Linked DNA regions of Homo sapiens: region 1 is linked to region 2. Evidence: fine-mapped expression QTL. Tissue or cell type: monocytes. Region 2 holds a variant in brackets; the other region holds the start of a gene. All regions are shown on one strand. Distances are between the middles of the regions.

Region 1 (8,000 bases), 36 kb after region 2:
CAGCTGCCATTGAAAGCTAGGCCCTGCCCTGACACTGAAGCTGCTGTAACTCTGAGCACACATGTGTTCCCATTCTTGGTTTCCCTGGCTGCCTCACAAGCATCCTCACCTCATATTCTATTACCAATATAGCAGTACGGGTACCTGCACCCTAGGCACCAATATCATTACAGTCCCAGATCCCAGAACTTTAATTCCTCCGTGTATGCCTGTGTTTTGGGCCTCAGCTCTATCTGCTCCATAGGCACCACTTATCAGACACCAGCGCTGCTGCCACTGAACCCAGAAGGCAGACTCAGTGCCAACAGGGATCCCCTAAGCCACAACTTCCTTTGTGGGAGAAGAAAAGATTGGGAGGCTATTAGCAGCCATTGACATTGAAAACCCCAACAACCCTCACTACCACTGCAGACATCCAGAGTTGGATGCTGAGGATCCCTGCAATCTTCAACAACAATTAACTCAGCTGACGGAGCTGCACAGACTACAAAGTGGGCACCCTCACTGGTGCCAGAACTGCTACATCCCATCTAGCAAGCAGCCCTCCCCATAGGGGAAGGTCTTTCCACAGCAAAACTAGCCCATACTTCTGAAAACAGCAAGTGTGTCATCAAATGTGCAAACATCAACATAAGGCAGTAAGAAACATGATAAACCAAGAAGATATGCCACCAAAAGAACACAAATGTCAGAACTGCCTAAGAATTCAAAATAATTGTTTAAAGAAGCTGAAGGAACTTCAAGAAGTTACAAACAATTCAATTAAATCAGAAAAACAATAAGCAACCAAAACAAAAAATTTAAAAAGTTATTTAAAAACTAAAGCAGAAATTCTGACGATGAAAGATGCAATGAATGAAACAAAAAAAAATGCAACAGACTATGTCAACAAGAGAACTGATCACACAGAAGAAAACATCTGTGAATCTGAAGACAGATTATTTGAAAATATACAGTCAGAAGGGAAGAAGAAGAAAAAAGAATGAAAAAGAACATAGAAGTAGGGAATTAAAGGATGGCATCAAATGAGCAAATCTTTGAATTATAGGCGTTATAGAAGGAGACAAGAAAGACAAAGGAGTAGAACATGTATTTAAAGAAATAACAACAGAAAACTTTCCAGGCTGGGCGCGGTGGCTCACACCTGTAATCCCAGCAATTTGGGAGGCCGAGGTGGATGGATCACGAGGTCAGGAGTTCCAGACCAGCCTGGCCAATATGGTGAAACCCCGTCTCTACTAAAAAATACAAAAAATTAGCTGGGCATGGTTGCGGGCGCCTGTAGTCCTAGCTACTTGGGAGGCTGAGGCAGGAGAATGGCGTGAACCCAGGAGGCGGAGCTTGCAGTGAGCCAAGATCGTGCCACTGCACTCCAGTCTGGGCAACAGGGTGAGACTCCATCTCAAAAAAAAGCAATCAATTCACCATAATCAAGTGGGATTTATTCAGGGATGCAAAGATGGCTTAAAATATGCAAATCGGTAAATGTGATATACCACATTAACAGAACAAAGGACAAAAATCATGACCATCTCTACAGATATAGAAAAAATATTCAACAAAATTAAACGTCTTTTCATAATAAAAACCCAACAATTAGGTATGGAAGGAAAGTACCACAACAAAAAAATGGTCATATACAAGCCTATAGCTAATAATATATTGAATGGAGAAAAGCTGAAAGCTTTTCCAAGATCAAGAACAACACAAGGATGCCCACTCTCACAACTTCTATTCAACACAGTACTAAAGTCCTAGCTAGAGCAATTAAATTAGGTGACAGAAAGAAATAAAAGGCATCCAAATTGGAAAGATTTTAAATAGCTTGACTTAGCCATTCCACAATGTATACATGTATCAAAACATCATGTTGTACAGCATATAACTGTACTTGTCAATTTTTAAGAAAGAAAAAAATACACAATTACCCTAACTGCTATGCAAGTTATTGCAATTTTTTCAAATTAATATTAACAAGTTATACAAAGGTTCTTACCTGCTTGAAATTTGTAACTGCTTTAATAACAGGAGAAGCTGTTACCAAGAGAATATCTTCCGATGGAAAGTGAGTAGCCAACTTATTTTTAAAAAGAGAGAAAAAAAATTAGGACAAATTACTTTAAGTACTGGTATATATGGTTTGGGGTTGAGAATAATGCAATTTTAATAATGTAATTAATCTAGAAAATTAAAAACCCACTGTTCCTCATCTAAAGGTCTCCATTATCCTTGGTCTTGATGGGGCAATGGTGAATAATATTAAACTCTGATACTGAGAAAATAATATTTACAGTAAACACTAACAAAGAACTCCTGAACAAGAAAAGTGATATAAAGAAATATCCTTTATTTACTTCAACTATTTTTTATACCAATTTAGAGTTATAATGCAGAGGATGAGAATAAACTATCTTCCTAATTACCAGTTAAACCAACTTCTATTTATCTTAAAATAATATTTCATTTGTCTTCAATGGGATGAAATTAAAGCAAACCCTCAATATTAAACACTTAGAATATTGGTCTAACTTTCCCCAGGTGCTCTGGCACTCCTATTCTGCCTCTTCCAGTCAGTACATATTGTGGGACGATAAAGCCATTTTAATAATTGCTTCCACAAAATTTAGAGGTATAACTTGTTAATGTTTCATTATTTTCCTTTAGCTACAACCTCGGTCTTCTTCACTCTGTACCTGAAAGCATTTTCTTATCTCAAAGTCTGGTTCCTCGACACCACCACCCTCAATAATCTGGCTTCTATTCCTACTCCATCACTAAAACAGCATGTTTGAGGGATCTATGAATCCTTAAAATCCAAGGGATTATTTATTTTTTTTTTAATGGAGATGGGATCTTGCCATGTTGCCCAGTCTGGCTTCAAACTCCTGGACTCATGCAATCCTCCCACCTTGGCCTCCCAAAGTTCTAAGATTACAAGTGTGAGCTATCGTGCCCAACACCCATGCGATTCTTCTCAGTCTCATTTTATTTGAACTTTCTATATTTGACAATATCATTACTCTCTCCATCTTTCTTTCCTCTGTATATTCTGTAATTTATATCTCTGCTGTTTCCATTGCTAGATGAGGTCCTCAAAACTTCTTTATACTACTGAAATCACCTTCGAATTGGCTCTCCAGTTTCACGTATAAACCAGCTGCCTCTGCCACAAATACATTGTAACTAATCATCTTTCAAGCCTTTTCATATGATCAAGTTACTCCACTGCTCAAAAACATTTGACTACTTGTAAATTCTTGTTAAGTTCTCAGCATGCTAAGACTCCTTATGATCTATGCTTTAAGCTTTACTGCTCCCTGATGATCCATGCTTTTCCACTGGAGATGACATTCTTTTCTTGAATACTTGGTAAACTTTCACTCATTCTTTCATAATGAGATTTTAAAAATACCTTCTTTGATTAAAAAAATTTCCTCTTCCCTAATTCACTCCCTACATACTCCACAGGCACCTCTAAGATAACCGTTGATATCTCTTGCATAGACATACAATATTGTAATATTGTCTCTTCCAGCAGGCTGTGAGTCCCCAGCATGGTATATACCATGCTGTTCATAGTTGAACACTCAGCCCTTAATACGGTGCCTGCATCATATATGTTTACTTAGTGAATAAACGGAAAATACGCATCCAACGATGGAAACACTTGAGTTTCTTCCACTATTTCTTATGACTTCAGTGATTGCTCATGTTTACTTTATATCAACAAAATAATGTAGAACTTTTTGGAATACACACATGTATCTGAATATATATGGTCTGGCTATTCAGTATAATCAAGAAAGCAAGCCCTACATGCATTTAATCCTTCGCTGATTATTTTACAAAACTTTACTAGAAATAAAGTTTCTTCTATCTTGGGAGTTCGAAGTATAGAAAACTTACATATGGGATTCTTTATTAATTAGTTAAGATGCACTAAAGACTTGGCAACTATCTGGAAACTAAACTCAATCACCTACGATAATTAACAAAGGGGGCTGAGGGCCGGGTGCTGTGGCTCAGGCCTGTAATGCCAGCACTTCGGTAGGCGGAAGCGGGCAGACTGCTTGAGCCCAGGAGTTCGAGACCAGCCTGGCCAACATGGTGAAAGCCCGTCTCTACTAAAAATACAAACATTAGCGGGGCGTGGTGGCTGGCGCCTGTAATCCCAGCTACAGGCTGACGCAACAGAAGAATCGCTTGAACCCGGGAGGCAAAGCTTGCATTAAGCCAAGATCGCACCACTGCCCTCCAGTCTGGGCGACAGAGTGAGACTCCGTCTCAAAGAAAAAGAAAAAAAAATAAAAAGAAAGGGGGCTGAATTTTTTGTCTAAATACAAAGTCCTCATGTCTGCTCTGACATTACAAGGATCTGAGCACGGATCAGCCAGCTTTGGTTTCTCGGCTATAATTTGCCTCCCACTCCTCCCTGCGCCTAAGAGAAAGCTAGTGAGGTCATCTGAGGACCACCAAGCAGTTTCTAAAATCTGGGAGCAATAAGTGCGGAAAAGGGCGCAGCAAAAAAGGAACCCGGAAGAAGAAAAAGGGAGGGGGTGGGAGGAAGGCCTCCAGTGCTATCCCCTTTGGGGTCGGGGAAAGAGGCGGAACCGCCTGAGCACCGCCCTACCTGCTCCGCACAAGTGACGCCCGCGATGCCGCCGCCGACCACCACGAACTTCCCTGCCGTCGGGGGAGGGCGCGCTGCCTCCATGCTGCCGGACTCCCAGTGGTTTACTGAATATCGCGGCGGAGCAACGGGACTCTGGACTCCAGGAGAGGAAGCAGCCGCGAGGCGGTCACTTCCGGTGCCTTACCAGATAATCCGACCTACGGGTGCTCGGGAGCTCACACTACTCATCTCGAGTACCTGCTGCCGGCTGCGTTTCGGAAGCAACGAATTGTCTCGTGGTGTTCAGAGCTTTGCGTTACTATTACTACACCTGAATGTAGTTATTCCATGAAAATTTGACAAAGAGAAAACCAAAAAATTAAAAATAAAAAAGTAAAGAAGATGGGTTGCCCAAAGAAGTTTGATAAATTACATATCTAAAGATAGACCAGTGTTCTCACGGGACAAAACATTCATATAATAAATGAATTGGTGTGAAGTTCTCATTATTTGTTTCTGCGAGAAATTAGAGGCACAGATTTTATGCTCTTATGAGTAGAAGGAGCCTTCGGGAACATCCTGACCCCACTCCTGTCATTTTTGTAGATGAAGAAACTTGAGTCTTCTGAAAACCACTTGATTGCCACCGTTCACCTAACAATCCAAGATTTTTGTTTGTGGAAGCACAAAAATTCTTCATGACAAGGCAAAACAATACTACTGAATTGTTCTCTAAAAAATCATCCTTTTCATTTACAACTTTGACCTCAGCTAAAGTTTCCAGGAAGAATGTACAGTTGCTTTCCATTTTGTCAAAACAAATGAACATTTCTTAAATTTCCAGTCAATAGCAGCATGTGTGAGGGTTGAATGAAATATTCCCAGTCTCGGTTTTACTGTGAATTTTTTTCGTGGTCAATTGTTTTTAAGAAATTGCTAAATCATTTTTAACTGTTTTTACTATATTATTCACTATTCATATTATTTTACTATTTACTATTACCTTTGCTGTCTCATATAACTTTCCCTAGGAGTTGTTTTGTAATGGTAAGGTATTATCTCTCAAATGGTTCACTCTAAAACTGGTAATTACCCGAGTCCCTTTAATTCTTTAAACACTGAGAATAACCATTATATATTAACAGGAAAGCCTACCACGTATCTAATTACAGGCATTTACTGATACCTGTAAAAATCATTGTTCTTTGATTTACCAAGTTAAATGGTAAGCGGTTTAATAAACGTGTCTAATTCCTGTTACTAGTATAGCAACCAAACAAAGCATTCATTTCTAGGAGGAGGAAATACATTCCTTAAGCCCATTTAGATCTCATCTTGCTTCAGCTTATTTTCACATTATCTCACTCACACTGTGTTCCATTCAGGCCACACTACACTTCCAGATCCCAGGATATGCCATTTTCTTTCTGAGCATTTGCACATATCTTTTTCCCAACTACTTTTCCCTGGCTAACTCATCAACCTTTGGTTTCATCAAGCCATTGCTTCCCCTTTAAGATACTTTATCTAACATCCTCAAGACAGCTAGGTGTCCTCTCCGTGTGTTCTTATAGCACTTTGTCATCCTCTAAATTTAGACTTATCCCACTTTATTGTAAATTCTTACTGCCTGACCCCACCACCACCATAAACTGCTTACATAATCTCAGGGATTATTTTTGTCTCCCTTTGTATCTCCAATGTTTAGTAGGGAGTATGTATTCAACAAAAATGTGCTCAACGAAATAGGAAGTTGGTGGAGCATGAAACTCCCCTGAAGTCCTTCTAAAGATTTTTAGATTCATTGTCCAGGGTCAGGATCCTCTTGTATATTGTGACAGGGGTTTCCTCTTTATGGAAGTCGGAAGGAAGAATGGAGTGGAATTTAAGCTCCCAGGGGAAACGGAAGGAGATCATCGTCTGTGGGAGGGGAAGCAAAGTAGTAGGAGGCTCCTCAAATGTAAAGGGGTAATGACTCCACACTCTCCTTTTTTCTTCCCCTTGTGAAGGCTGGCTTTTTTGTCAAAGGTGATGTAGGGATAAGACCTAGCTGCCTGCCACACTGGCATGAATATCCAACTTTTAGAAATGTCTAAGGGTTAAAGAACTTTCAGTGCATCTCACCTTAATGTTGATTAAATTAGATACATATACTGGATGTAAAGTGGGTTAAAAGTAAGATGTAGGTAACTTGAAACATGTTATCCACAGGGAGGGCAGCAATAGGTACAGGTTAGGAGAAAGGGCAACTGCAAAGAAAACTGGGCACCTAGAAATAAGGGAGGCCCAATGCCAGGAAGCAGCAGAGAAGCAGAAAAGACAGAACTTCAGCTCCCCTTTAGCTCTGGTCAGCAAGCTTAGGAGTGACCTGGTGACTGTTTCTGAGGAGTCAAAGAAATACCAGTGTATTGCTAAATATTATGGTGTATGTTTATGGGTGGAAAAGAAAAGCAGGACTTGGCAAAGAAAGGTTCAGAGAAGAAGTGGAATTTATATTGAATCTCAAAGGCCCATAGCATTTGGATAGGTTCAGAAGAAGATGTGGCAAGTCATGTGGGAAATATCCCAAGAACCAAAGGCTTAGCAGCAGGAATGAGCATGGGAAATACAGGAGATGGTAAAAGGGAAGAAAGAAAGAAAAGTGGTTGGGGAGTTCAAGATTCATGTGGAAAAACTGAAGGAGATAAAGCTATCTTCTTCTATTTCTCTCCATAATGTTGTTACATCTGATTCCCATACCCACCTAATCTCTTGAAGGCCATCCCCAACTTTCAAACTACCATCAAAATCTAGTCTTCCATTCTTCTTCAAGTTGATATCAGAAATGCCTAGAATAGGAGTATTGAGGTTAATTTTCAACTGCAAAAATTGGGAATGAATAATGACATTTCATAGTTGGTGATTAATAGCTTTTGAGTCAGATGACCTAGGTTCAAATGTGGCACCAGCATTTCTTTGTTGTGTGACCATTCAGTGAGTTATTTACCTCATCTGAACCCTAGTTTCCTCATTGGCAAGACGGGTATAAGATCTACTTTGTAGAGTTGTTTTGATGCATGTGTGAGGCAACATATTTAAACTTCCTAGCATAGTGCGTGCCTCTTAGTAGGATTAATGGTTAAGTTGCCTGCCTGTGCCCTGTTGAATAGACTATGTTTCTCTGTCTAAAGGATTTTATCTATGATCATAACCTTAACAAGCCTATTATGCTTTTAACTCCCAAATGTCTATCTCTCATGCAATCTACTCTGAATCTTCAAGCCTGAAATTTCTGAAACATCTTGGATATCTTCTCATTTTTATCTTGGTTTTTGCCAATTCGCTGTAAGTACAGCCTGGATTCATCTTGCACTCGAAACCTCTTCTTTGTTTTGTTAGTTCATATAAC
Region 2 (8,000 bases):
TCCTCTTTGTTTTCATAGTAGTCCTCTACTTAGCATGTAAGCAATTTCTACCACATTTTTTTCAGTTTCCTCCAAATAGTTTAAGTGACAATTTATCTAGTGATGTAGATGCTTATAACAAGTTTGAGCCTAGAATGGTTTCCGAGAAATAGGTTATATACAAAGCAGTGCCGCCCTTACCAAGATTTTTTTGGTCTGATGACACTAGGTGGTAGCAGGGGTTTGTCTGATGGCCTGTTTTATCTTTTGTTAGTTGTAATAAATTAAAACACTGTGGCTATACCCACTGTCTCTTGAGTCCACCGTGACCAAGAGTAATGTCTGAAATAAACGTAATAAAGCCTGCCCATCAAAGAGGCTAACACAGAACTGCAAATTTACTGCTATAGATGGCTGTGGAAACAAAATCATAGTAGTCATCGATTATCTGCATAATGTTAAAAGATATAATTTACTCTAACTCTTAAAGGATAGAAAAAGGGCCACTTTGTTTGTTTTTTCAGATTATAAGGCACTTGGTATCTTAAAGCGGCAGTTCCCTAACGCATCACTAATTGGGCTGACTGCAACTGCAACAAATCACGTTTTGACGGATGCTCAGAAAATTTTGTGCATTGAAAAGTGTTTTACTTTTACAGCTTCTTTTAATAGGCCAAATCTATATTATGAGGTATGTAATTTTTATGTCAATTCCTTACTTTTGTGAAGAATTACGCAGAGGGGATCTGCCTTTTTATTATGTTTATTTACATGAGCAGTTAAGTACTTACAAAAATTTTTAACATTAGGAGGTAATTATAAGTAGATTCTGTGATTAGGGCTTCATTCATGTATCTTTTGCTACATAAACCTTTGTTAGATTAAATGGAAGACACCTGCTAGGTGATACTTTTTATAAAACATATGAGTAAGTCATATATCTTTGTTAAATTTCTGTATGTTCTTTTTTGTATAAAGATGGAGAGAAAGGATGGAGTGATACTAAGGACCCTAATAACATCTCTGTTCAAATTAATTACTAAGTGATAGAAGTATTCATATGCCATTAAAGATTTGCCAATTCTATTTGAATTTTATTTGATAAACTTGAAAATCAAATAACCTAACAGCTGTCTTTTCTTTCTTTCTAAACCCTTTTAAGAATAGATTTAATATTTTTCTGAGTTTTCATTAAAGAGTTATTTATGTTACGGTTTGTTTTTATAAAAGTAGCATCGCAAAATAAAAAAGTCTGCATCCTTGCAAGTTATTCACTGCTCATGTGCTTGCTCTTCTCTGGTAAATTAAAAAAATAAAGATCAAGAAGAGTCTGGGAGGAGGAACAGATGAGTCAGATGGGTTGAATCCTGTGAGTAAGTGAAAGAGTAATAGGAAAAAAAACACTATGGTCATGAAAGAACTGCATCCTGAAAGTTGTACATAGACAGCCACTTGGATGGTACTCATTCATTTACTTTTTAATAAGTTAAGTTTTTTTTAGGTTCGGCAGAAGCCCTCAAACACTGAAGATTTTATTGAGGATATTGTAAAGCTCATTAATGGGAGATACAAAGGGCAATCAGGTAATGTAAAAACAAACCAACTTTGGAGACAGAGATAACTTTCAAAAAGTGACTTCATATCATATTGATAATTATACTGATAACTGAATAACACCAAAAAAAATTAATGTATAGCAGAAGATACTTGAAAATACGTGATAAAATTAATTCACTTGATCTTAGAAATTGGGTGTGACATTTGCTTATGCCATAGATTATGAGTCGTCAAATTGCCTGATTTATTTTTGCTTATTTACACTTGCTTTAGAATAGACCTGATGACTTAATGTTAATTATCAACAGCACATATTTAGTATGTATCCACTGTGTACAAAATAGTGGATTAAGCAACTGATATTCTAAAGGGATAGAAAATATACTCCCTTACAGTAAAGGACACGTTAAAGCAATAAATAAATCCAGTAGTACATACTGAATAGATTAAGCACAGATCGAGTTGTGAGTATATATACATGGTTTTCTGGGTTTAATGACTAAGCAAATGTTACTGAAGCAAAGAATTTGTGTGAAAGTAGCATTTTAAACTGTTCTATAGATTTTCAGGAGGTAGTCCTGGGTAAAAGGAGTTCTAGGGTCAAATGAATTTGAGAAAGGTTGCAGGTATTTATTCTGCCTGGATGTTCACAGGGTGTATCAGCAAACTAGAAGCTCTGACCATCCCTGAAAATAAAGAGAGACACCCATTTAACTTTGTTGAATGCAATGTTCTCCAAATTAATTTGCATGCAAATTAATCTAAATTAACCCAAAATTAATCTGGAGAACACTGCATTCATAGCACATTTGTTAGCATCTTACAGACATCAGTTTGAGAAATACTGTTTAGTGGGAGATAAAGTTAAAGAGAGAAAAGAGATAACAGGAACAAAAACTGATGGCTCAGGCTCATTTCTGCTTTAAAGGAAGCTGGTGCTCAAATCTGGAATTATACCAAAATGTCAATATATGCACAAGGCCTTGAAATTTTTCATAATTCTTTTTTTCCTTCTGTGCATTGTATTAATCAATGTCCTGAATGTGTGTGTTGAAAACCATCTTCCAGGAATATGCCATATCTATCTAACAAATGCACATATTTTACTGCAGGAATCATATATTGTTTTTCTCAGAAAGACTCTGAACAAGTTACGGTTAGTTTGCAGAATCTGGGAATTCATGCAGGTGCTTACCATGCCAATTTGGAGCCAGAAGATAAGACCACAGTTCATAGAAAATGGTCAGCCAATGAAATTCAGGTTAGGTCTATATCTTCCATAGAAGCCTAATTTACCTTTAAAATATTTAAACTTGATTTAATTAACTGATAAAATGTTAAAATATTTCAGGTAGTAGTGGCAACTGTTGCATTTGGTATGGGAATTGATAAGCCAGATGTGAGGTTTGTTATCCATCATTCAATGAGTAAATCCATGGAAAATTATTACCAAGAGAGTGGACGTGCAGGTATGTAGGACTCAAATCCAGAAGTAAATTTTTAGAAAGCTTTTCCAAAAAATACATGATAAATGCTTAATAAGTCTGTATGTTTTATCTTTATTGGATAGTATTTTTAGAACAATGTATTTTTAGCAGTTTGACACTTACTTGCATATGGAGAAATTTTTACTTATGTTCTGTTATCTGAATTGTTTCTTTTTATGTGTGTTAAGATAATTTGATGTTCATCTTTGCCTCCTGAATTTTTAATTAGTGATTTCAAATCTATAACTTAACTGGATTATAGACACATTTTTTAACTTAGTAGAGCTGATTATTGATGTCTCTTTAGAGTTTTTTTTAATTTGAGGGTACCCATTACAAATTAACTTCCACATCTCTAAAATTTCTAGATGTAGTATAAAACATTGCCTGCTAATTTTACCATATGTCATTTTTGCATATTTTGAATTTGTAAATGTAATTCTGCAATCTCAAGGTTTCTCACACCACAGGTCGAGATGACATGAAAGCAGACTGTATTTTGTACTACGGCTTTGGAGATATATTCAGAATAAGTTCAATGGTGGTGATGGAAAATGTGGGACAGCAGAAGCTTTATGAGATGGTATCATACTGTCAAAACATAAGCAAGTAAGCCACATACCTTTTTATAACTTTTATCAATTAAAGCAAATATGAAAGTATATGACATCGTTTTTAAGTTCTTACTAAATACATTGGTGGAACACCAAAGTGCAGATCCATAAAAGCAGATGTTGGAGGGTAGGAACCAGCACATCAACCTGTATGATCTGCCTTAGTTCAAGAAAAGATGCCCTATCTTTGAGATAATCCTCCAAAACTACTTTTTTAATTGAAGGTTTTTGAGACACATTGATAGCAACTTGAAGGCTTTTTTTCTCTGGCACTGCTGTACAGTTACATGATTTAATAATTTTGAAAAGGTCTATGGTTAAGATAGGCATTTTGAGAGTCAAGCTCAGTAACGTGCCACCTTGCCAGCTCATGTGTCAATGAAATACCAAGTTTCTCCTTAAGAAGTAAGTTTAAATCTACTTAGGGTGGCTTTAGACTAGATAGCTTCCTGAAAGCTTTCTGTCATAGTTATCTTTGTGCTTTTATTGCCTATCACATAAGAAGTGCTCAGAAATGTCGAGGTGGTAAATAGCAGCCAGACAGTGATAGAAATGTTCTTTCTTTCCAATAGATACTACAATAATCTAGTTAAAAGAAATGAGAAAATGAAAATGTCTTCCAAAGGCCAGTAGAGTCTCATGAAGCATATTTTAAGGTTTCAACTCAAATATTGCTACTTTATTAAAATATAAGAAACTATTTTACTGTCAAGAATATTCTCCTAATAGTTGCAAAACATTGAATTTAAAAATGGAACTCAGACAATTTTTTAAACAGTGTTTATCAAGAATATGTGGGGAAAAAAGTCCTATGTCGGGGGCACA[A/G]TGGCCCCCCAAAGATGTTCACGTCCTAATTCCTAACCTGTATGTTACCTCACATGGCAAAAGGAAAGTAGCATTGCACATGGAATTAAGACTGTTCATTAGCTGACCTTAAAATAGGGAGATTATTTTAGATTGTGTGATGTGAGAAGAACCTGACACTCTGATTTTGATCCAGTGAAACCCATAGTACACTTCTAAATCTAAACCACAGAAATGTAAGAATAAATGTGTTTAAAGCCACTAAGTTTATGGTAATATTATGGCAGTTATAGGAAGCTAATACAGTATATAACTATGTAAGCTGAAATAGAGATTCTTAAAACTTTATTATATCCTTTAATAATTTGTATCTTTAAATGTGTTTGCAGATGTCGTCGTGTGTTGATGGCTCAACATTTTGATGAAGTATGGAACTCAGAAGCATGTAACAAAATGTGCGATAACTGCTGTAAAGACAGTGGTGAGTTTGTTGTTTTGTAAACCTTTATAGGCTAATACAGTCATAATGCCTAGTGACAGAGATACGTTCTGAGAAATGCATCACTAGGTGATTTTGTCATTGTGCAAACATCAAAGTGTACTTACATAAACCTAGATGGTATAGTCTCCTAGGTGATATGTTATAGCCTATTGATCCTAGGCTACCAATCTGTACAGCGTGTTACTGTACTGCATACTGCAGGCAGCTGTAACACATGGTTAAGTATTTGTGTATCTAAACATAGAGTAAGTACAGTAAAAATATGGTATTATAACCTGGGTGACAGCGAGACTCCGTCTCAAAAAAAAATATATGGTATTATATAATCTCTTGGGACCACTGGCATATACGTGGTCCATCACCGACCAAAATATTATGTGGCACAAAACTGTATATACAGCTGGGACATGAGAGAAGTATTAGACTTCCAAATGGATTTAAAAGATTAAAGTGTGAATCAGATTTTCCAGAATTAAAACTATCAACATGAAGTTTTGAAACAAAGGTGAATAAAAGGAAAAGTCTTATGTGTATGCACACATTTTATATTGCTATACTGAGGATGTGAAATTTTTAATAAATGAAGGAAAATATTTGAATTTTTCTGAATAGAAATGCTATTCTATAAGAAAAGGGAAACCATGTGATAATCTCTAATACTTTATAGTCACTAATTGAAAAGAAAATTTAGTGCAAAATAGAGACTATAGAGAATCACTTTTGATCCAGTTAATGGCTAGTCATCGGAGATTTACTTAAAATTCTTTTAAATGTAGATCAGCAGGATTTGTTTTCTGAGCATTGGTCACAACCCTGCTGATCAAAACAGGATCTGGTCAAAACAAGATATAGCAAAGAAACTGGCCCAAACAAGTTAGAACTAGAAAATATAATGTATTTGCATGATGTAAGACACTCCCACTAGCACCATGACAGTTTACAAATGCCGTGACAATGCCCGAAAATTACATGGTTCTAGGAACTCCCTAACCTTTTCTAGAAGATTCATGAATAATCTTCCCCTTATTTAGCATATAACTAAGGAGCAGCTATAAATACCGCTAGTGAGCAATGTACAGTGCCACTCTGCCTTTGGGGTAGCCCTGCTCTGTCTATGGAGCCGCCATTTTCCTATACTCTATTGCTAATAAACTTGCTTTGCTTTCACTTTACTCTGTTGGCTTGCTCTCAGATTGTTTCTTGCATGAAACTGGGAACCCTCCTGGGCTGAGTCCCAATTTTCGGATTTGCCTGCAGCATTTTGGCACTATATTTTAACTTTTTTTCATCCGTGTGTTGTATTTCAAGATCTGGACTAGCCAGTACCTCATGGTAAGACCTTACTGAGTTCTGATGCCTTGTTAGGTGGAAGCCACTGTATTTTTAACTTTGCAGACAGAGAAATTTATGAGTTTATTAGACTATCTTATAAAATAACAAGAGTGTTATATATAAATCAGAGTACTGGTCTCTTAATAATTGGGTTATCAGTTGAGGACATTCTTGTTGCTAAATCAGAGTTCACTCAGGAGCCTATACTAGAACAGACAGGGTCTCCTATAAAACACACCTCTTAGTAACTTAGTAATCATGTCTGGCAGACACTTTCTGATTTCTAGAGTATATGGCAGGGCTTCTGATAACCAATTTTTTTTTATATATATCACTGTAAACCCCACAATGCTTACAGAGACCATAACTTGGTCTAGTGACAGAGACTTGAGGAATAGCCTAGTCTTAATTCAGAATACATTTAAAAATCAATGTTTAGGGTGGCTCACATTGATAACCAGCTTTAAACCAGTTTAACTACTTAAGATAGCCTATCTTTGCCCTCATTTCTAAATCCTAATTACCTGCTACCATATTTGTTTTATTACAGCATTTGAAAGAAAGAACATAACAGAGTACTGCAGAGATCTAATCAAGATCCTGAAGCAGGCAGAGGAACTGAATGAAAAACTCACTCCATTGAAACTGATTGATTCTTGGATGGGAAAGGGTGCAGCAAAACTGAGAGTAGCAGGTGTTGTGGCTCCCACACTTCCTCGTGAAGATCTGGAGAAGATTATTGCACACTTTCTAATACAGCAGTATCTTAAGTATGTACAAACTCATTCATTATTCTTTCAGGTTGTCTTTATGGTTTTTTTTTAAAAATTGCAACAGAATAAACGGTTTTGCAGTTATTTTGTGTGAACTTTTAAATGCTATAGAAAGTAATTTACCTAAAACACTCAAACTTTAATCACTATAAATAAAAAAAAGTAACGAAAATATTTTCTTTAAAGGCTTTATTTGCATTCTTGTAAATTTTATTATTTCAAGTCAATGTGTTAAGAATTACTGCGCATATAGTTATTTCTTTTATAAATTTGTTTTCCGTGATTCCTTCAAAAGCTTTCTTATTGTTGGCCTTTATTTTCTGCAGAGAAGACTACAGTTTTACAGCTTATGCTACCATTTCGTATTTGAAAATAGGACCTAAAGCTAATCTTCTGAACAATGAGGCACATGCTATTACTATGCAAGTGACAAAGTCCACGCAGAACTCTTTCAGGGTAAATGGCTATTAATTTTCAGTTTTATATATTTTAAAAAGTATATTAAAGCCTATGGGATGCTTTTCTGTCATATTCCCCTAGGTCCAGTTGAACATGAGAAAAGTCAGTTTTCTGATTAGATTTCTGGGTATGGAAGAGAGAAAATATAGTTTTCTGTAAAGATGTAAGTGAAAGAATTTAGACTGGCCTTTTAACATAAACTAGGGGTTTCCAGTTTCTTGGAATGGGAGGACTCCGTTTGAATATCTAATTTTGTTATGCACTCTGCTCTTATTTGGTTGTGATTACTAATAGTTGAGAAGTCTGTTTCTGCTGTTCCAGTGGTTAGAAACCACTGTTTTAAACCAAATACTATCAAGTCTGCAAAAGCATGTCAAGTCAAGTGCCATTGTGTCTAAGGACATTTGAGGTCTTTAGAACTTCTCTCACAACGTAGCCCCTTTTATTCAAAATAGAGCTCATATTTGAATAGAAATTTGTAGATAAAAAACTA

The links. PIP is the estimated chance that this variant, and not a neighbour inherited with it, causes the effect.
Region 1: it holds the start of PYROXD1, and the variant in region 2 is fine-mapped to the expression of PYROXD1 in monocytes (Quach 2016, PIP 0.94).

What each region holds. Positions count from the first base shown.
Region 1 is chr12:21,434,445-21,442,444 of GRCh38, reverse strand. It overlaps PYROXD1 (pyridine nucleotide-disulphide oxidoreductase domain 1), which reads right to left and starts at 4,790. Exons shown (of 12, transcript NM_024854.5): 1 at 4,631-4,790; 2 at 1,997-2,077. The coding sequence starts at 4,714. RefSeq lists enhancers at 4,642-4,831, 4,882-4,961.
Region 2 is chr12:21,470,473-21,478,472 of GRCh38, reverse strand. It overlaps PYROXD1 (pyridine nucleotide-disulphide oxidoreductase domain 1), which reads right to left. Exons shown (of 12, transcript NM_024854.5): 12 at 7,223-8,000. It overlaps RECQL (RecQ like helicase), which reads left to right. Exons shown (of 15, transcript NM_002907.4): 7 at 504-670; 8 at 1,481-1,562; 9 at 2,649-2,797; 10 at 2,888-3,005; 11 at 3,494-3,632; 12 at 4,831-4,922; 13 at 6,826-7,045; 14 at 7,375-7,504. Among named protein-coding and RNA genes, the nearest start is that of RECQL, 27 kb to the left of the region's middle. The variant A/G (reference allele first, on the strand shown) is at 4,463.